Regions from separate parts of the Homo sapiens genome. Here region 1 is linked to region 2. Evidence: fine-mapped expression QTL. A gene starts in region 2. The other region holds a variant in brackets. All regions are shown on one strand. Distances are from middle to middle. Region 1 overlaps SMURF1 (SMAD specific E3 ubiquitin protein ligase 1). Region 2 holds the start of TMEM130 (transmembrane protein 130).

What was found. PIP is the estimated chance that this variant, and not a neighbour inherited with it, causes the effect.
Region 1: its variant is fine-mapped to the expression of TMEM130 in tibial nerve (GTEx, PIP 0.91).

The regions. Positions count from the first base shown.
Region 1 is chr7:99,093,201-99,104,376 of GRCh38, reverse strand. All of the region lies in intron 1 of SMURF1 (SMAD specific E3 ubiquitin protein ligase 1), which reads left to right. Among named protein-coding and RNA genes, the nearest start is that of SMURF1, 45 kb to the left of the region's middle. RefSeq lists enhancers at 656-1,855, 4,297-5,150, 5,151-6,005. The variant AAAAGAT/T (reference allele first, on the strand shown) is at 6,373.
Region 2 is chr7:98,865,136-98,876,311 of GRCh38, reverse strand. TMEM130 (transmembrane protein 130) reads left to right here and starts at 6,298. Exons shown (of 8, transcript NM_152913.3): 1 at 6,298-6,535. The coding sequence starts at 6,451. RefSeq lists enhancers at 6,228-6,813, 6,814-7,400.

The sequences.
Region 1 (11,176 bases), 230 kb before region 2:
GCTCTAGAGGAAAAAGTAGTAATAGCAGTTATAGCTGGGTAGTGAGATCATGGATACTTTTATTACTATTTATTTCTTCTGATTTCTATGAGCATATGTTACCTCTATAGTGACCAAAATGATTCTTAAGTTATTGTAAAAATATAACGTTTTAGAATACTTTTCTTCCAGTTGAAAAGTTATGTGTCCCGGCGGGGCACCATGGTTCATGCCCATAATCGCAGCACTTTGGGAGGCCGAGGCAGGCGGATCACTTGAGGTCAGGAGTTCTAGACCAGCCTGGCCAACATTGTGAAACCCCATCTCTACTAAAAATACAAAAATTACCCAGGCGTGGTGACGCACGCATGTAATCCCTTGGGAGGCTGAGGCACGAGAATTGCTTGAACCCGGGAGGCAGAGGCTGCAGTGAGCTGAGATCGCACCACTGCATTCTAGCCTGGGTGACAGACTGAGACTCCATCTCAAAAAAAAAAAAAAAAAAGTTGTGGCCCGGAGATATCCATCACAAATTGCTTTTCATATATGACAAGAAAATTTCAAAAATTGTCTCCATCAATATATGAATTTTCTCTTTGAAGTTTTGTGTCCTACTGTGTGTGTTTATTGTAGACAGGACAAGCAATTTCCATCATTGAAACCAGAAAACATCTTTGGAATTTTAAACTCAGTGTTGCTGTATTTTGGGGATTACATAAAAGCATTGATAAAATAAGTTGTGCTTTAAATGGAAGATTTAAATCTGTGAAGCTTTTTAAGATTGTGTTTGTCACGTCTTGGCACACATTTCTTGTTTGTAGAGTCTGGTTATGAAAAGACTCTGGTTTCCATATGTATATTTAAAATACTCTGAGTCATGGATTCAAATGAGTAATTGACATAATATGTCCATCAGATTCCTGCTTTGTCATACCGTCACATAAGGGGAGTACATTTATTTTAGTAATTGTAATAGTAAACACAGTTAATTAGCAAAATGGTATTCATTTTAAATACCTTTCCCCGGTGTCTTTTATAACTTTCCAGAAATTGCTTTATTGGAATGAAAATGTGTTTGATTTCACAGGAGGCTTAGGAAAAGGGCCACATGTGTATGAACACAGGCGTATGTATACAGTGCTGGGAGTGGTGTATACATAGGTGTTTAGAGATTAGAAGCTCCATGTCTCTATTTCTTCCTCCTTTTTGCTAAGTCTCAACTCAGAATCTGAAACCACATTGATTGTAAGATGTACAATTACATGTGCCACCAAAAAAGAAAAAAAATTGATTGTAACCGGGTGTGGTGGCTCATACGTGTAATCTCAGTACTTTGGGAGGCTGAGGTGGGTGGATCGCTTGACTCAGGAGTTTGAAACCAGCCTGGGCAACATAGTGAGAACCTATTTCCCCTAAAGATAGAAAAATAAGCCAGGCATGATGGCACGCACCTGTGGTCTCAGCTACTTGGGAGGCTGAGGTGGGAGGATCGCTTGAGCCCTGGAGACGCACTGCTGTACTCCAGCCTGGGTGACGGAGTGAGACTGTGTCTCAAAAACAAAAAAACAAAAAAACCAAAAAAATGCAGTTGTAAGATTTACAATTACGTGCACCACCAAAAGAGAAAAAATGCTATGAATCAAATAATGTTGATGCTTTCTAATTATCTATAACCTTTACTTATAACATTGAAAGAGCCACTTATTTAAGTATAGATTTTTTGCATGTGTTATTCTTGTATATACATAATTTAAAAGTATAAGAAAAATAGATTAAGGAATTCTTAACATTTCTTCACAGTCAGTGTCCATCTCTTCTGAATCATCCGTTTGACACAGAATCAACAATATTTGTATTTTCACATAATGAGTAATCAAAGTGTTGACAAGGCAGCTTTTCTGGAAGAGGGCTCTGTAAGTTTTTTTAAACAGCTATATTAAGATAGAATTCACATACCATATAATTTGCCCCTTTAAAGTGTAAATATCAGTGGTTTTGGGTATATTCAGTTATTCATTTTGTAAATTTGGCAAAATACACATTATAAAATTTGCCATTTTAACCATTTTAACTATTGAGTGGATAAATTCTCTTTCAAAACTCTTTAGAGACAGATGCGTAGGATATTAATATGTACAAAGAACAACAAAATATTGAAATAATTTCATCATAATATTAGGGAGATTTTAGAATGTATAAAAATATAAAAATTCCATGTTACTATGTATAGGATCCTATTTTACCTATCTTTTATATATAGTACAAATTTAAGTGGAATCAAAATGTGTAATCCTAGTATGCCCATATAAAAGGGTAGCCAATATACAATGCCTTGTCTTTGAAAATTTCAAATGTGCATCATAATATCACATTAAAAGTCTTTGAATGTGCCTAGACATGGAAATGCAAAATAAGAAAAATGAAATTATTCCCTTGTTTTGTATGTATCTTTTTTTTTTTTTTTGAGACGTGGTCGTGCTCTGTCGCCCAGGCTGGAGTGCAATGGCACAATCTCGGCTCACTGCAACCTCCGCCTCCCTGTTCAAATGATTCTCCTGCCTCAGCCTTCCCAATAGCTTACAGGCGCACACCACCACGCCTGGCTAATTTTTGTGTTTTCAGTAGAGATGGGGTTTCACTACAGTGGCCAGGCTGGTTTCCAACTCCTGACCTCAGGCGATCCGCCTGCCTCGGCCTCCCGAAGTGCTGGGATTACAGGCGTGAGCCACCATGCCCGGCCGTGTGTATCATTTTTTTCCCTTGAGGGTGAGATTAAAATGTCTAGACCTTTAGATGTGGAATTCCCACCTCCATTTACGAAAAGTGATTACACATTGGGCAATAAATTAAATCTATTTATTGTGTTTCAGTTTGAAATTTAATTGTGCATGTCTCTGGTAGGGTATTTTTTTGCTGTTTAAATCTCTGCTCCAAATATGAGCCAGGAACACTGTAGCTCAGTTTTAAAATTAGTAGAAACTGCATGTTACATGAATGGAACATTCTTTTTTGTTGTTGTTCTTTTTGAGACAGGGTCTTGTTCTATCACCCATGCTGGAGTGCAGTGGTGCAATCATAGCTCACTACAGCCTCGAGCTCCTGGGCTCAAGTGATCCTCCCACCTCAGCCTCCTGAGTAGCTGGGACTACAGGCACACACCACTGCACCCAGCTAATTTCTGTATTTTTTTGTAGAGATGGGATTTTGCCATGTTGCCCAGGCCGGGGATGGGACATTCCTTTCACTATTCCCTACCCCCCCATATTTCTTCAGAACTTAATAATAGTTTTGTTCCTTATCAAGAACCAAGTTCATTGGTAGCCTCCCAGAAAACTGGATTCAGTTCTAAAATGAAGAGATGGCTGGAAAACTTATCGAATGCATTTAAAAATTGGTCACCTTTTCCTCCATTTAAGAAAAGTCTCAAAATCACTTCATTATGTATAGTGTTCTTTTCTCCACCTTGCTTATCTCTGAAACACTCTTTCTCGGCTTTGGATTTAAAATTTGGTAAGAATTATTGTATCTCTCTTTGACTCTGAATATTCTTGTTGCTTTGTAAGATGTATATGTCTAAATTTCATCTCTTCACTTCACATCATGAAATCTTCCTTCTCTAGTCTTCTGTTTTAAGTCTCAGTTTGACTGTTGATAGAATGTTTCCAGTATTAACTTATAAGCTATGACTATGAGTTGATAACTGTTGTTTTAACAAAGATACAAAATTTATTCAAATAAATCTGCTTTAGTCTCCTGGGAAAGCTGGATATATATTTCTGTGATGTTGGGCTGAGAATTCTGAACTGCATTTTTATTTTTATTTTTTTATTTTTGTTTATTTTTCAAGATGGAGTTTTGCTCTGTTGCCCAGGCTGGAATGAAGTGGTGCGATCTTGGCTCGCTGCAACCTCTGTCCCCAGGTTAAAGCGATTCTCCTGCCTCAGCCTTCTGAGTAGCTGGGATTATAGGCGCCCGCCACCATGCCCAGCTAATTTTTGTATTTTTAATAGAGACGGGGTTTCACCATGTTGGCCAGGCTGGCCTCTAATTCCTGACCTCAGGAAATCCACACTCCTCGGCCTCCCGAAGTACTAGGATTACAGGCGTGAGCCATTGGGCAGGGCCGGAATGGCGTTTTTAAATTGAAATTAACTGCTGGATGCGTTCTTACTTTCTTACTAGGTAGAGTACAACATCTTTCCTTTTGCTTAGTTTATATTGTTAAAAGTATATATTTGGCATTCTGGGGTCAGAGCATTTTGCTTTGCAGCTTTTTTTTTTTTTTTTTTAACTTTTCCCACTAAAGGTTTTAAGATTACTGTAAATGTGATAAGATGAACACACACAAAAAACCTGTGAGAACCAGGATTCTCCGGGGATTTGACTGTATATTTGGAATGCTGTGAAAGGCACTGGTGGCTGTCCTAGTTCGTTTAGAGTTGCTGTATCAGAATACCTGAAACTGGATAGTTTATAAAGTAAAGAGGTTTATTTAGCACATGATTCTGGGGGTTGGAAAGTTCAGGACTGAGCATTTGCATCTGGGGAGGGCCTTAGACTGTTTTAACTCATGTTGGAAAACAGAAGTGGAAATGATGTGTGCAAAGAAACCACATGGCCAGAGAGAGAAACCAAGGAAGCCAGACTCTTCTGAACAACCCACCCTCTTGGGAATGAATCCATTCCGTGAGAGTGAGAACTCACTCCCGTGGGAAGGCATTAATCTATTCATGAGAGCTCCACCCCCATGACCCAGACACCTCCCAGTAGGCCCATAGGCCCCACCTCCCACCGCTGCCACAGTGGGGATCAAATTTTAACATGAGTTTTGGTGGGGACAGACCAAACCACAGCAGTGGTCTTGCCAGCGTGTACATGATAATGGCATTTCCCCCCCTATCCTGGGAAAGGAATTACTGCACGGACCTTAGAAAGCAGATAAACCACTCTGTAAGAAATTAGGTATTTTCTTCTTAGAATCAATTCAGTTCAGTGTTACTGTTCTCTTTTATGTGTTAGACCCTGTGTTAGATACTGTGGAGTGACAGCAAAGCAATGTAAAACCTCCCTCGACTATTGAAACAGCCACCAAAGAGGTCAACTTCCTGCCTCCTGCCTCTCTCCATTCCTTCTCATTTTCTACTCCCGTGCCAGAGTTTATAGCTTTCCAAAAAAAAAAAAAAAAAAAGTAGTAGTGTTTGGCTCCTCATTGCCTCCAGGGCAAAGTCCAAATTCCTTAACATTGCATAGAAGACCTTTTCTCATCGGGCTCTAGTCTCCTCTTGTTCCTGAACCAAACCTTCCATAGAAACACATTTCCCTGAATGCATTCTGCCTCTCAAACATGTCTTTACACATGTTCTTTCTATAGAATGATCTACTCCCTAGTTACTCCTTCTTGTCTTCCCATCACAGTGTCTTCATAACGCTATTCACATTATTTATTTCCTTGTCTTTGCTGCTGCCAAAGATGAAAGGAGGGATCTCAATCATTTCCATTCCAGGGCCTGGCACAAAGCGCTTATTAAATGTTGTTTTCAGTGAATGATGCAGAGTAACCTCCTTAAAGGATCTTATAATTTAATGAGGAGGGAAGATGATCAGAGGGCCGAAAGTCACTAACATGTGTCTGAATGGAAATAGTGTATTATTCAGCTAAATTCTGCAGTTTCCCTTGACCAGACATAGAACAAATATAAATCTGTCCAGTTTTAGTTGCCCCATAGCTTAGTGTTTGGTGACATTTCTCAGTGCACTGTGGTGCTATTTTGTATGCTGCTGTTCTTTGTCAATGAAGCTCCAAGCAGAGGGCTTGTGAATACGGAGCTAAGGTTTGTTGCAATGGGGAAGAAATATGAGTCAATTAGTGATGAAAATGAGAAAATGCACTGTTCGATATCATAGGCATGATCTTGTCAAATTGAAAAAAGTTCTCTTTACACTGTGAGACCATTCTGTCTTTTGTTATTATATGCATACTTCTCTCTCTTTGATTAGAGTCATTTTTTTTCCCTCCCAGCCAGTTAACATGTTCATAAACAGAGGTCCTTCTAACTCAGTTACCTTTTGTAATGCCCATAGGAAAATGCTCATTTTGGGGTTAAAATCTTATCGTCTCCCCTGCTTCCATCTCAGTTTCTTTACCTTACCAGAAAATTAGGTAATTATCTGTTAGATTTAAAATGTGAGGATCAGATTTAACTCCTGAAATAAGGAGAAGGGTGTAGATGATTTTGTTTATTCTTATAGCAAATTTAGCTTTATTGTAGAATTACTTTATAATAATTTACTAATTGGGATTTTTTTCTCCGTTTTATGTGTTTTCAATAAAAGCAGTTCTTGATGTTGACAGTGAAAATTTTGCTGGTGGCTAACTTGGGTTTTGTCTGTTGA[AAAAGAT/T]CTTCATTTTTCTCTTGATTCTTAAAAGCTATTTTTGCTGGGTAGAGAATTCTAGGTTAGCAGTTATTTTCTTGAAGATATTTCTGTCTTCAAATCTTCACTGTGGCATTTCAGAAGTTGGTCACTCGTACTTGGAAAGTAATCTTTCCTTTTTCTGTGGCTGCATTCAATATTTTTATCTTTGTATTTCACTTTCTGCAGTTTCACTGTGAAGTAACCAGGTGTGTATTTCTTTTCATTTATCCTGTTTGGGCTTTTTGAAGTGCATTACTGTCTTCGAAGCCATTCATTACTGTCTTTGTTTTGTGTTGCTATAACACAATACCACAGGCTGGGTAACTTATAAATAAAAGAAGTTTATTTCTTACAGTTCTCGAGGCTGGGTAGTCCAATATCAGGGTGCTAGCATCTGGCAAGGGCCTTCTTGTGGCGTCATTCCATAGTGAAAGATGGAAGGGCAAGAGAACATGTGTGAGAGAGAGAGCAAGAGATTGAACTCACAGCCTCGAGCCCTTTTTTAATGTCATCAATCCATTCATGCGAGTAGAGCCTTCATGACCTAAATATCTCCCATGAGGTCCACCTCCCAGCACAGTTGCATTGAAGATGAAGTTTCCAACATTTACTCCTTGGGGTGCACATTCAAGCCACTGCAATCACTGTTGAAAATTCGGAGCCGTGACCTCTTTCACTGTTGTTTTTGCCTCATTCCCTCTCTCTCCCCTCTTTTTGGTACTCAGTGAAGCTCAAGTTAGAGTTTATGATTGCAATGGTTCATTCTGCTTTCCTTTTAAAATTTCTTAAGGTAGAAGCTTAGATGCCTGATTTGCAACTTTTTTCTTTTCTAATAAAAACATTTAATCTTATAAATTTCATTCTAAGTTTAGCTGAATCTCACAAACTTTTTTTTTTTTCTTTCAGTTCAAAATATTCTCTAATTTCCTTTGAGACCTTCCCTGTCACCCATGGATTATTTAGAAGTGTGATGTCTACTATCCAAGTGTTTGAAGATTTTCCTGTTATTTTTTCACATTGCTTTCTAGTTTAATTCCATTATGGTCAGGAACATACATCGTATGACTCTAGTCCCTTTCAGTTTGCTACGATTTCTATTATAAATGTTCCATTTTGTACTTGAAAAGAATATGTACACTGTTGTGGTTGAATGGAGTATTCTATAAATGTCAGTTTGATCCCGTTAGTTAATGGTGTTCAGTTCTTCTATATATATCCTTGCTGACTCTGTCTACTAGCTCTGTCAATTGCTGATTAGAGTTTTTACGTCTCCAGCTGTAATTTTAGATTTGCCTCTTTCAATTCTGTCAGTTTTTGCTTTATGTATTTTGATGCTCTATTGTTAGGTACAAACACATATAGGATTGTTATATCTTCTTGGTGAATTGACCCTTTTATTATTATGTACTGTCTTTCTTTATCTCCCACACTTTTCTTTCTCTGAAGTTGAATATTAATATAGCCATTCAGGCTTTCTTATGATTAGTGTTTGCATGGCATATCTTTTCCTCCCATGTGAGTTGCAATTTCGCTGGTTCTTTATATGCTGAGTAATTTTGGATTTTATCCTTGACATTTTGGTTATTATGTTCTGAGACTCTGTGTCTTGTGTAAATACTGTGGAGAATATTGACGCATTTGTTTAGCAGGCATTGACCTAGTTGAGCTCAGGGCATGTGTTCTGTTCTAACTAGCCTTTTGCGGGTTGTGGTTTCAATGTCACTTGTTTTCAAAACCTTTGCAGTGCTATTTGTTACCTGTCTGTATTTTACCAGGTGGCCACCTGGAGCCTGGTTGGTGGTTTACCCCATGATTTAGGCGTCCTGGTCATTTGTAGGTGAAAGTTGTTCACAGTAGACCAAGGTTTGAGATTTTCTTGGTCACTCAGCTGAGGTGAAGCTGGGCTGCTGTCTGAACTTGTACCCTCAAGGTGCTGCCCCTTTGAAGGTTAGCCCACACTGATAGGTAATGCCCCAGGACCCCATTCTTGGAAGTTAAAGGACTCCAGCCCTCATCCTCCAGACTCTAAAAGGACTCCTTTCAGCAAATGTGACCCTAGGGCCAAAAAAGCAGCTGGACATCTGGGTTTTCTCCAGGCTCAGGCACTGATCTCAGGCTTCTAGACTTCAGAACTGTGAGACGATACATTTCTGTTGTTTAAGCCACTGAGCAGATGGTACTTTGTTATGGCAGCCCTAGCAAACTAATGCTAAGTGCGCAATTCTCATCTCCCCCAGGCCCCCGTGGCTAAGTTGAGATCTTTAAGAAAACATATTCTTTTAGGTCCTTAAATTTAACTTCGAGTACCTAGTCCATTGCCTGTGCATAGGAAGTAGGCACTTGATAAATACTCACTGGTGTTTCTGCTGTGATGGAAAATTTATGTCCCTGAAAAACCATACATTCTGCACAACAATACACTAAAAATAATAAGTGTCTTGTGGGAAAAGTAAGATTATAGCTGGTCTCTCAAAATCATTGCAACTTGGTAACTACTAGCAAAAACCATAATTGCTACCTTAAGAGATTATCTGGACCACCCAAGCAGGCATCTCAGTGTGGCTGGATGTTGCTAAAATGGATACTAAAATATACAAAAAAACAGTCCGCCTGCGGTGGCTCACGCCTGTAATCCCAGCACTTTAGGAGGCTGAGGTGGGTGGATCACCTGAGGTCAGCAGTTCAAGACCAGCCTGGCCAACATGGTGAAACCCCGTCTCTACTAAAAATACAAAAATTAGCCGGACATGGTGGCGCATGCCTGTAATCCCAGCTACTCGGGAGGCTGAGGCAAGAGAATCTCTTGAACCTGGGAGGCGGAGGTTGCAGTGAGCCGAGATCGCGCCATTGCACTCTAGCCTGGGTGACAGAGTGAGACTCCATCTCAAAAGTAAAATAAAATAAAATAAAATAAAATAAACAAAAACAGCAACATGGAAACCTGGCAATGCTTGAATTGGTACATGGGCGGTGGATGTTGAGACAGTGCACACAGAAGTGGAACTCTGAGCCCTGGGCCTCCTGTGATAGTGGCCATTGATGGAGCCAGTGCAGGTAGCCAAACTGAGGGAGCCTCTGGCTGGCTGTGGGTGCGCTGTCTGGGGAGTGGGACCCAGCTGTAGGCTGTTTGACAGCGTGGCATAAAATAATTTTTTGCATGAAACTTTTAGTCATGAAACTGCAAAACTGCTTGGGACTTGGGTGCCATTTCTAAAGGGCTCTGACAATTTGGCAATGATTTAATGTCATTATAGGGTGGTTGCTTTGTTCTTAAAATACAGCTTCTTGCTAAGGCCAAGTTAGGTGACAGTTTTTTTTTTTTTCCTTTTCTTGCCTAAGATTTTCATTTCACTCCCTCCACTTTTTTGCTTAGGAAACTCTCAAATGAATCAGTGTGACTTCCATGCTATAAGATGTCACTGCTACTTACCAATCAAACATGAGCTCATCTGTGTTACAGAAGCAGAACAGAACAGATGGTATTTGAATTAAGTTGAATTCCCTTTTGTACTGCTTATATTCATTTGTTAGTCTCCTGGGCTTATGATAAATTCAAGTGACTTCAGATGTATTGAGTTAGCCAGAGCTGTATATTTAAAATTACCTGTGGAGTTATTTAAAATTACCTGTGGAGTTATTTAAAATTTAAGTTGATATATATTGCCCTAAACTTGTTCAAAATTTGAATTAATTCATTGAAACATTCAAAAATTGAGTGTTTTCAATTAATAGAGACATTCTCTTTGTGATATAGAAAGCTATTCGTTGTTCTTGTTGACTTTTCTTTCTTACAGAAGAGGTTGTTTATAAATTTTTAGTGTGATCCTAATTGTATTTCTAATATTTTTGGTTTGGTTCCCTAAAATAGTTAAGGTCACTTTTAGGTAACAATTAGCGGACTTTAATTTTGACCATATATAGTTACACACACATCACGCACACACACAAATACAGTTTCAAATAATTTCTTTTAATTGATTTCAGTCTTGTTAATCTTGTGCGTAAATTTCAACTGAGCTATTAATGACACCTACGACTGACTTTCATTATTTGTTAGTTTTGAAAATTCAAATTAATATATTACAACATAGAAAGTCTATCAAATCTTGAACATTTAGATTGTAAAGCTTTTTGTTTTAGCAAATTTACTTATGATCAATTTATAATTGAAGAATTGGCTTCTAATCCCATATATAGTTTTTTAAAATTGAAATTATATATATATAGAAAAGTGCATATATAGAGTGCCATACTTTGTCATAGGTTAAGTTTTCTAAATAAGGAAAGTGTCTTAAAGAGAAACTCTTTATACAAGGAGGAAAGTAGTCATAAACTATTCTTAGTTTGGCATAAAATGATTTTTTTTTTTTGCATGGAAATTATAGGCGTAAAACTGCAAAAATTGCTTAGGACTTGGGTGCCATTTCTATAGGACTCTGGCAATTTGGCAATAATGTAATGTCATTATAGAGTGGTTGCTTTGTTGCATTTTATTGACTTTTTAGTGATAAATTCCAGGAGAATCTTTATTTTCCAGGATAAAACTCAATGTGGCGTTAATCCTTTCCATTTTCTCACCTCCTTTGTGTAGCTAGAGCTGAAAGCAAAGTAGGAGAGTGGCTTTGAAAAGGAAGGAAAATAAATTTGACAATGATCAAAAACGCCAGGCTGAAGGCAGCTTTTAATGTGATTAACCAGTTTGTAATTCATTTTTGGGAAACATTTCCAGAATATAACAATTTCAGAGAACACGAAACCTTCTTATAATTCTGGAAGTGGGAAG
Region 2 (11,176 bases):
AACCCAGGAGGTGGAGGTTGCAGTGAGCCAAGATGGCACCACTGCACTCCAGCCTGGACGACAGAGCAAGACTCTATCTCAAAAAAAAAAAAAAAAAAAGGATATCCCCGAACTCATTTTGCTCCCTCCAAGCTACTCCAGGATTTAGCCCCAAATGCTTCTCCCAGGAGCTGATTCTGAGTCATTGTTACCTGCCCAGCGGCCCCCCACCTCCCATAGTTAATTTCCAATGCAGGACAACGAGGATGTGTGGTAGGGATACGGACCCTAGGGCTGCTGCCCTCGAATGACCAAAGATTTGATTATACCACCTTGCTAGGGCCAACAGACCAACTAACACTAACTTGCTTTAGAAAGAGTTTCATCAACAAGAATTGACACCAAAGAAGTGTGAACTTTTCATTACCCAGAAAAATTTAATTAACCAAAACAGGCCACCGTCCCTCCCCCACCGCCCCCCCAGAGCCAGGCGAATGAGGTCTGACTGTTCACAACATCTGATCTGTCCCCAGGTCCCAGACCCTTACCTGTGGCTACTGTTCTGGACGTTTGGCCCCAGGCATTGCCTGTTAAGGCTGCCCTCAGTGTCTGTTCTGACCGATGCTCACCTCGCCAGGGGAGAGAATGTCCCCTCTGTGCTGCCTTGTGATCATATGAGATGGTGTCTGTGAAAGCAGTCCAAGGTCAGTCCAGAGAAGGCACCGACAAATGGTTTCCAACACCGAGTCATGTTCAAGGCTTTGGGGGCGTTATCAAGGGGAGGCCTCATCTTATTCTTTCAGCCATTCCACAAGCATCTACTTTGCACCAAACTACATGCTAAGTACCAGACACGCAGACACATGGCATAGGCGAGGATGCTGGGAGGAGGGTCAAAGTCACCCCGGTAAGAGGTATTTGTGGCCCCTATAGGCTAGACTGGGAGAATTTGTGGGAAAAAAAAAATGACTCTTGAGGCCGAACACAGTGGCTTATGCCTGTAATCCCAGTACTTTGGGAGGCTGAGGCAGGAGGATCACTTGAGACTAGGAGCTCAAGACCAGCCTGGGCAACATAGTGAGACCCCCATCTCTACCAAAAATCTAAAAAATTAGCTGAGCTACTTGGGAGGCTGAGGTGGGAGGATCATTTGACCCTAAGAGTTAGAGGGTGCAGTGACCTGTGAGTCACAATTGTGTCACTGCACTTCACACTGGGCAACAGGGGGAGAACCTGTCTCAAAAAAAAAAAAAAAAAAAAAAAGGAGGATGACCAGGAAGACTCTTGGGATGGTCAGACGCATTTGTACCCAGGCAACTTAGTGCTGTGCTTTCCACTTCAGTAGCCACTAGCCCCATGTGCAGTGTGGCCCATCTGAATGGAGATGAAATCTCAGCGTAAAATGCACACGAGATGGTGAACCCTTACAACAACAACAACAACAACAACAAAAAGGCTAGAGTGCAGTGGCACGATCTTGGCTCACTGCAACCTATGCCCCTCAGGTTGAAGAGATTCCTGTACCTCAGCCTCCAGAGTAGCTGGGATTACAGCACCTGCCACTGGGGTTCCCCGTGTTGGCCAGGCTGGTCTCAAACTCTTGGCCTCCTCTGCCTCGGCCTCCCACAGTGTTGAGATTATAGGCGTGAGCCACTGCTCCCGGGTTATTGATCATTTTTACGTTGATTATGTGTTGAGATGATATTTTGAATATGTTGAGTTTTGTAACAGCATTAAAATTGATTTCACTTATTTCTTTTTCTTTTTTGAATTGTGGCTACTTGAAAATTTAAAATTACATACATGGCTCCAATTCTGTTTCTAGCCAAGAACATTAATTTAGGAAAGCCAAGCTGCACTTGGTGGTGCACACCTGTAATCCTTGCTACTCTGGAGGCCGAGGTGGGAGGATTGCTTGTGGTCAGGAGTCTGAGACTAACCTGGGCAACATATAAAGAGACCCCTCTCTGAAAGAAAAGAAAAGAAAAAATAAAAGAAAAGCTAGCTCTATGGACTGGGCACAGTGGCTCACGCCTGTAATCCTAGCACTTTGGGAGGCAGAGGCGGCAGATCACTTGAGGCCAGGAGTTCGAGGCCAGCCTGGCCAACATGGTGAAACCCCATCTCTACTAAGAAATACCAAAATTAGCTGGGCATGGTGGTGCATGCCTGTAATCCCAGCTACTCAGGAGGCTGAGGCAGGAGAGTCGCTTGAATCCAGGAGGCAGAGGTTGCAGTGAGCCAAGATCGTGCCACTGCACTCCAGCCTAGGCAACATTTTTGAGACTCCATCTCAAAAAATAAAAGGAAAAGAAAAAAATGAAAAGGAAACCTAGCCTTCTGAGAGGATTTCCTGCCCCTCCCTTATCAGATACTCCCTGGAAGAGTGAAGCTTCCCAGTCTGCTATGGGATGGAGCAGAGATGGGTACTGTGAGGGTGGTGGTGGTGGTGATGGGATAAGAGTAACGCCTATGGAAAATCCTGGCCGGGCGCGGTGGCTTATGCCTGTAATCCCAGCACTTTGAGAGGCCAAAGCGGGTGGGTCACCTGAGGTCTAGCGTTCGAGACCAGCTTGGCCAACGTGGCGAAACCCCATCTCTACTAAAAAAAAAAAAAAAAAAAAAAAAAAAAATACAAAAAATTAGCCAGGCGTGGTGGCGGGTGTGTGTAATCCCAGCTGCTTGGGAGTCTGAGGCAGAAGAATTGCTTGAACCTGGGAGCCAGAGGTTGCAGTGAGCCGAGATCACACCACTGCGCTGTAGCCTGGGTGACAGAGCAAGACTCCGTCAAAAAAAAAAAAAAAAAGGAAAGAAAATCCTGGGTGGCAAACAGGAATTAGCCAAAGGGCTGGCCGGGTGCGGTGGCTCACGCCTGTAATCCCAGCACTTTGGGAGGCAGAGGCGGGCGGATCACGAGGTCAGCGGATCGAGACCATCCTGGCTAACACGGTGAAACCCCGTTTCTACTAAAAATACAAAAAAATTAGCCAGGCGTGGTGGCAGGCGCCTGTAGTCCCAGCTACTTGGGAGGCTGAGGCAGGAGAATGTCGTGAACCCAGGAGGCGGAGCTTGCAGTGAGCCGAGATCGCACCACTGCACTCCAGCCTGGGTGACAGAGAGAGACTCCATCTCAAAAAAAAAAAAAAAGGAATTAGCCAAAGGGTGGCATCAGCATCAATTTCAGGGTGGCCTTGAAGGTGGCTTCTGTAACACTGTGGCTACTGTAAAATTATTACTCAGTGAAATAAAGTTACACATTTTAGAAACAATACATCTTATGCTATTTGATACATTTTTAAAAAGCAGGAACGACCTGGCCTTCCAATTATGTTAAACCGTCTTAAAGATTTGCAACTCTGCAAGCTTGACTGTTTTCTTCTCAAGTGCTTCAAAGTCCTGCTGAACAAGCCAATTCCTCCCAAGTCCTTCAGCAATTCCCATTTGACACCCAACACTGATTGAACCCTTTACTATGTCCTAAGCTGTGTTCTACGTGTTAATTCCTTTTATCCTTATAATAGTCTCATGGTGTTGGGACTATTATTATGCCCATTTTAAAGAAAAAGGGGGACTGACATGGTGGCTCATGCCTGTAGTCCCAGCTACTCTGGAGGCTGAAGCAGGAGGATCGCTTGAGCTCAGGAGTTTGAGACCAGTCTGAGCAACCTAGCAAGATCCCATCTCTGTAAAAAATAATTTTTAAAACATTAGCAGGGAGGAAAGTGACTTCTCCAAGGTCCTGTAACTCTCAGGGAGAACCCAAAGTCCCCTTGTTCCTAGGCCTGGTATTTATCACCACCGTGACAGTTGATGCCACTAGGGGGTGACATCCGTCTAGCACTTTTTTTTTTTTTTTTTTGAGATGGAGTCTCATTCTGTTTCCCAGGCTGGAGTGCAGTGGTGCAATCTCAGCTCACTCAAGCTCTGCCTCCTGGGTTCACACCATACTCCTGCCTCAGCCTCCCGAGTAGCTGGGACTACACGCCCGGCTAATTTTTTGTATTTTTTTTAAGTAGAGACGGGGTTTCACTGTGTTAGCCAGGATGGTCTCGATCTCCTGACCTCATGATCTGCCCGCTTTGGCCTCCCAAAGTGCTGGGATTACAGGCGTGAGCCACCGCAACCGACCCCCCCAACTTTTTTTTTTTTTTGAGACGGAGTCTTGCTCTGTTGCCCAGGCTGGAGTACAGTGGTGCAATCTTGGCTCACTGCAAACTCCGCCTCCAGGTTCAAGCAATTCTCCTTCCTCAGGCTCCCAAGTAGCTGGGATTACAGGCGCCTGCCACCGAGTCTGGCTAATTTGTGTATTTTTAGTAGAGACGGGGTTTCACCATCTTGGTTAGGCTGGTCTCGAACTCCTGACCTCGTGATCCACCCGCCTCGGCCTCCCAAAGCGCTGGGATTACAGGTGTGAGTCACCATGCCCTGCCCTGTCTAGCCCTTTTAACTTTTCATAGGGGCTCACTCAAATCTATTCTCCCTCCATTCCCTGAACATAGCAGTGGGGCCAGTGGGGCCCATTCTTAGGGAAGCTCACAGCTGTCCCAGAGCCAGGGGCCCTTTAGACCAGTAGTCCCCAACCTTTTTGGCACCAAAGACAATGTTTCCACGAATGAGGGGTTGGAGGGATGGTTTCGGGATGATTCAAGCGCATTACTTTTATTGTATACTTTATTTCTATTATGATTACATACTCACCATCATGTAGAATCAGTGGGAGCCCTGAGCTTGCTTTCTTGCAACTAGATGGTCCCATCTGGGGATGATGGGAAACAGTGACAGAACATCAGGCATTAGATTCTCATAAGGAGCACGCAACCTTGATCCCTCACGTGAGCAGTTCACAGTAGGGTTTGCGCTCCTATGAGAATCTAATGCCCTGCTGATCTGCCAGGAGGTGGAGCTCAGCGTGGCTCACAGGCCCTGCTCACCTCCTGCTGTGCAGCCAGTTCCTAACAGGCTATGGACTGGTACTGGCGGCCAGGGGCTTGGAGACCCCTGCTTTAGACGCCTTGATGTCAATGCACTGGGTGGTGCAGTGATGGTCCATCCGTGCTCCACGGGCCAGAGAGGAGGTCAAAGGCCCTCACTGTGTGGGAGGATCCCTCGCCCAGGTAGCCGTAGCAAAGCGGAAGCATAGCTGGGACCAGAACCCACCGGGCTTCCAGCGTTTAAGGCCAGCCAGGCCCCTCCAGCTTCTAGGAGAGCCCAGCCCTGCTCCTCTAAGGCAAATGGCAGTAACTGTGTAGGCTGGTCACCCCTCACCGCAGTAGCCTGACTCCCACAAGGCCCTCAGTGACAAAGAAGTTGCCCTGGGCCCAGATACGAGCAGGAGCCCCATCTTAACAGCAGCTGTGAGAGGGTAAACCGGGGGATGACATCAAGCCCACGGCAGGGGCCGGGTGCTCAGGCCCCTCTATCAAGAAGGGGCAAGAGGCTGGGCACAGTGGCTTACACCTGTAATCCCAACATTTTGGGAGGCTGAGGCGAGAGGATCACTTGAGGCCAGGAGTTTGAGACCAACCTGGCCAACATGGTGAAACCCCGTCTCTACTAAAAATACAAAAATTAGCCAGGCCTGGTGGCGGGCACCTGTAATCCCATCTTACTAGGGAGGCTGAGGCAGGAGAATCGCTTGAACCCGGGAGGCGGAGGTTGCAGTGAGCCGAGATCGCGCCATTCTGGGACAGAGCGAGACTCTGTCTCAAGATTAAAAAAAAAAAAAAAAGAAAAGAGGAAGCAGCAGCAGCAGCAGCAGCAAGAGGAATTTCGAGGCCTTTCGCCCAACGCCTGGCGCACCTTAAGCTCTCAACAGTTCTTGAATGAGGAGTAGCATCTCGGAGCCACGAGCGTGCAGAGAGAAGGCACCTGGAGGAGAGCCCCAAGGGACCTGCAGGCGGCTTGCAGCGCAGCGCACGCCCCTGGGGACGCTGAGTCAGAGCCGGCGGCATCGGATCCAGGGCGGGGAGGGGCTCGGGGGAAGGGAAAAATGCGGGTGCGGGGGGCGTGGTTTCGGGTAGTGGAGGGGAAGGATGCGGCCGGGGGTGGATTTGGGGTGGGGAGGGATGCGGGGAGGAGCCAGGGCGCAGGAAGGGAGCTCTGGAACCCCTAGAGGGGAAGCAAGCTGGGAGGGGCGATCGTGGACTCCAGGAGGGCAGGGGGCGCGGCCGTGGGAAGAGACCCGGAGAGGGAGGACGCGGCCGTGGAGAGGGACGCGGGAGCAAGGGGCGGCGGGAGGAGGAGGAGGGCGCGCGGCGCGGCTGACGTGGGCCGGGGTCGCGCAGCGGGCTGTGGGCGGCGGCGGCGGCGCGCAGCGACAGAGCGTCCCCCGGCGAGGACGAGCGAGCACGGCGCCCGCACCTCCCCGCACCGCCCGCGCTGCGCGCCCGGAGGAGCGACCGCCGCAGTTCTCGAGCTCCAGCTGCATTCCCTCCGCGTCCGCCCCACGCTTCTCCCGCTCCGGGCCCCGCAATGGCCCAGGCAGTGTGGTCGCGCCTCGGCCGCATCCTCTGGCTTGCCTGCCTCCTGCCCTGGGCCCCGGCAGGGGTGGCCGCAGGTAAGGCGCTGGGCAATCCGGCCTCCCTGCAGCCGCAGCCCGCCCGGGGCCTGGAACCGTCTCAGCGGGCGAGTGGGCCCGGGAGCAGGGATTGCGGAGGTGGCACCGTGCGCCCTGCGCGCATCTCCCTCCTCGGCTGAGGCCACTGCAGCGCCCTTTCCCCTCTCCTTTCATCCTTGTTCCCCAAAGTCGCCTGGGCACTGGAGGGGGCTCCCCGCACCCCCTGGATTCCTGCTTCCACCCCCCCAGGCTGGCCCTGCCCTGGAAACCGCGCGGGGGTGGCCGGCGCATCCGTCGATGCCTGGGGACCATGCACCCGCTAAGGGAGGGGAGGACGAGGCAGGGAGGCGGGGATGCGCCAGGGTCCGTCATCGCGCCACAATTCCCCAGTCCCCCAGGGAGCACGGGATGGGCAACGTTTTTGCCTTAAAATGTCGCCTCATCTAGAGGGGTTTCCCACCGTGTTGGTGCTGGCTTTGGGGAGATGCGAATTTAGAGCCCAGGAGGCCAGGCTGCCATTTCCTCTCTGGTGGTGATTTCCAAAATGGACCCGGAGCTGACAGGTTCCTGGGGTGTGTGTGTGGGTGGGGGAGTGGGGGAAGCAGGGTTGTGTGTCTACTGCCCCCACTTCCCCACCGCCAGAAAGCCAGCACCCACCTCTCTGCCACATTTTGGGAACCATAAAAGGACCCAGATTTAAGACTATTCGAGGGACAGATGGGACGTGGGCAGCTAAGAAGGTTGAATACTATCCACCACTTTTCACCCCCTCCCCCCTCATAAAAGAGCGGTGGAGAGAGAGAGCAAGGGATCTAATGAAAATTTGTGAAAGAAAAACCATGAGGTCAAAGAAAACCTGCAACTCAGGGATGAATTAGACGAATTTTATGGGAATTGCACTTGGACAAGATTACCTATTTCCTCCTGGAAATACAGGAAAGGGGTCTCTTGTCCATCAGGTTGATTTGTGTCAGAGATTTTCAATGTGTCCTAAATTGCAAAAGAAAAAGAAAATAATAACAAAAGTGAATTAATTATTTGGAAATCATGTGTGGTTCCCATTCTAGCCAATTGCACCCTTGATGTGGTCAAAATCACAGTGGCTAAGAGTGGAGTTGGGAAACATCTTCTCCCTCACCCGTCGGGGAGACTTTTCTACCCTTCCCCTTTCTGGAGTCCATGAATCAGGGATTTGTAAGTCAGAAGTCCATGTACTGGACTATTAATTAATTCTGGGTTGTGTTATCCAGACTTTAGAGGTACTCTTTGGAAGTGTTTTGGGTAGTCTGCATATTCTGTGTGAAAGGACTGGTGTAGCCATTTTCTAGAATGTTCAGGGCTGCACATGCTGTGTTGCTGGAAAAGGTAGGTGTTTCTTCCATGGGCCAAGCTTTGGGGTGAGTGCCCCATCTCTTTTTGCTTTTGCCCCTTGAGCTCTGGGTGACTTGGGGGGCCCTTGGAGTCCCCTAAACCTCTGCCTTGGCTGCTCCATACCCCAACTCCATGTCACATGGACTCCCAAACATGGAAAGATGAATTTGTTTGTTTGAGATGCAGTCTTGCTCTGTCACCCAGGCTGGAGTGCAGTGGCACAATCTTGGCTCACTGCAACCTCCACCTTCTGGGTTCAAGAAATTCTCCTGCCTCAGCCTCCCAAGTAGCTGGGATTACAGGCGCCTGCCACCACACCTGGCTAATTTTTGTATTTTTAGTAGAGATAGGGCTTCGCCATGTTGGCCAGGCTGGTCTCGAACCTCTGGCCTCAGGTGATCCACCTGTCTCAGCCTCCCAAAGTGCTGGGATTACAGGTGTGAGCCACCACGCCGGCCTGGAAAGATGAATTTGGTGGGTAGAGCACCAGGCCCTGTGATTGGTTCCTTCAGCCACATTTGGCAAAGGCTTCCTGGTCCATTTCCACCCTGGATGTCCTGGCCATCCCTGAGACCCCTGAGGAACAGGGGCAGCATCACCCAGGGGCTGTGACACACCTGATTTTGAAAAAACAGACTGAGAAAAAGTGTCCTTGGAGCTGGCAGGTGGTGGTGGGGGAGTCGGCGGGCTCCCATGAGCTGGGCCAGTGTCTGCAGCAATGTCTGCAGCAGACACAGCCCCTCCCTGCCCCCCATCCCCCCTCCCAGTCCCAGCTGGCTGCCCTCCTGATCCATTCCCCTGGCAACCGATCTGCGTGATAACATGCGTCTGTCTCACTGCAGATGCTGTTTGGCCATTAGCATGCAGCCGAATGTCCCTGCTACCTGCCAGCCTCGCTCAGGCCCACGCTTCTCAGCTGGGGTGGCAGGGAGGGGATGGGGAGGAGAGGGGTGCCAGGAGTTAGGGGGATAAGGGAGGAGGTGGTCTCTCATCCATGCACCTCTCTGTCCACAGCCTGGCCAAATGCTGCCTCCCAGCCAAAGTGGGGAGGGAGAGCAAAGCCCAACCAGGGTAGTACAGACTGGTTGGGTGGCCTCAGGCAGCAGCAGTGACCCATGCGGGCTTCAGGTCCCTCAATATCATATACCCACTCTGTTTGCGTGGAAAAGCTCCCATCACAGCTTCTGGATTTCCCTCTTTGGGGTTAAGACACTGCAGGTCCCCTTTTCAATGCCAGCATTCCCTTGGAAGTGACCAGCTCTCGGCATCTTGACTCAAATGACTTGATTTTTATTTATTTATTTTTGTAGAAAGGGTCTCTCACTTTGTTGCCCAGGCTGAAGGGCAGGGGCGCCATCATAGCTCACTGCAACTTCAAACCCCTGGGCTCAAGAGATCCTCCTGCCTCAGCCTTCCAAGTAGCTGGGGCAACAGGTGCACGCTACCATGCCTGGCTAATTTTTAAATTTTTTTTTTTGTAGAGAATGGGTGTCGCTGTGTTGTTCAGGCTGATCTAAAACTCCTGGGCTCAAGTGACCCTCTGGCTTCAAAGCGCTGTGATTACAGGTGTGAGCTGACTGGGCCCGGCCTCAAATGCCTTTATAATTTAAGAAATGGCTCTGAAAAAAAAGGAAATACGTGATGTGGGCCAAAGCAGCGAACGTGTGAGGTGGGCCTGAGGAAAGGTCGGAGCTGGAGTCCCCCACAGGGACAGGTGATGTTGCTTTGAAGTGAATGAGATGCGTCTGAAAAAAATAATCTCAGAGTTGCCTGGGCACTAGAAGGGGCTTCCCTTGCCCCCTCGATTCCTGCTTCTACTCCCCGGGCTGGCCCTGCCCTGGAAACCACACGAGGGTGGCCCACGCATCCGTCAGATGTCTGGGGACCATGTACCTGCTAAGGGAGGGGAGGACGAGGCAGGGACATGGGGATGTATCAGGGTCAGTCATCGTGCCACAACCCCCAGCCCCCAGGGAACACGGGATGGGCAGCATTTTTACTTTAAAATGTTGCCTCATCTAGAGGGGTTTTCCACCCTGTTGGTGCTGGCTTTGGGGAGATATGATTTTATTTGATTTATGTATTTATTTATTTGAGATGGAATTTCGCTCTTTTTGCCCAGGCTGGAGTGCAGTGGCGCAATCTCGGCTCACGGCAACCACCATCTCCCAGGTTCAAGTAATTCTCCGGCCTCAGCCTCCCGAGTAGCTGAGATTACAGGCGTTCGCCACCACACCCGGCTAATTTTGTATTGTTAGTAGAGACGGGGTTTCGCCATGTTGGCCAGGCCGGTCTCAAACGCCTGACCTCAGGTGATCCACCCACCTCGGCCTCCCAAAGTGCTGGAATTACAGGCATGAGCCACCGTGCCTGACCGAGATGCAATTTTAGAGCCCAGGAGGCCAGGCTGCTATTTCTTCCAGGAGTGATTTCCCAAAATGGACCTGGAGCTGACAGGTTCCTGGGGGGACTTGTGGGGGGACCTTGTGCCCACTCGGTCGTGCATCTACTGTCCCCACATCCCCATCGCCAGAAGGCCAGCACCCACCTTTCTGCCACATTTTGGGAACCATAAAAGGACCCAGATTGGAGACTTGTTGAGGGACAGGTGGGACGTGGGCAGCTAACGGGGTTGAATATTATCCAACAGTTTTCATCCCCCTCCCCCCTCATAATAGAGTGGCAGAGAGAGGGTAAGGGATCTAATGAAAATTTGTGAAAGAAAAACAAGGTAAAATAGTTGAAATAGTTGAAAACCACAAGGTCAAATAGTTGGCCTTTCTTTTTTTAAATTTTTTTGAGACAGTTTCGCTCTTGTCGTCCAGGCTGGAGTGCAGTGGCGCAATCTTGGCTCACTGCAACCTCTGCCTTCCGGGTTCAAGCAATTCTCCTGCCTCAGTCTCCCGAGTAGCTGTGATTACAGGCGCATGCCACCACACCTGGTTAATTTTGTATTTTTAGTAGAAACGGGGGTTTCTCCATGTTGGTCAGGCTGATCTGGAACTCCTGACCTCAGGTGATCCGCCCGCCTCGGCCTCCCAAAGTGCTGGAATTACAGGTGTGAGCCACCACGCCTGGCCAGCCTTTCTTGTTGAAAGCCCAGCAGGTCTCCTGTGAGGTCCCTCCAGGGAGGGGCTTGTTCTGTATTTCTGGATCCTCCCAACACGGTAGGGATGGGGTCCATGGAAGGGACTCAGTCAGTGCCACCTGGGTGAACAGTCTCCTGGGGCAGGGCCAGGTGGGCTGGTCCCTCTGCTGCACCTGCTCTCC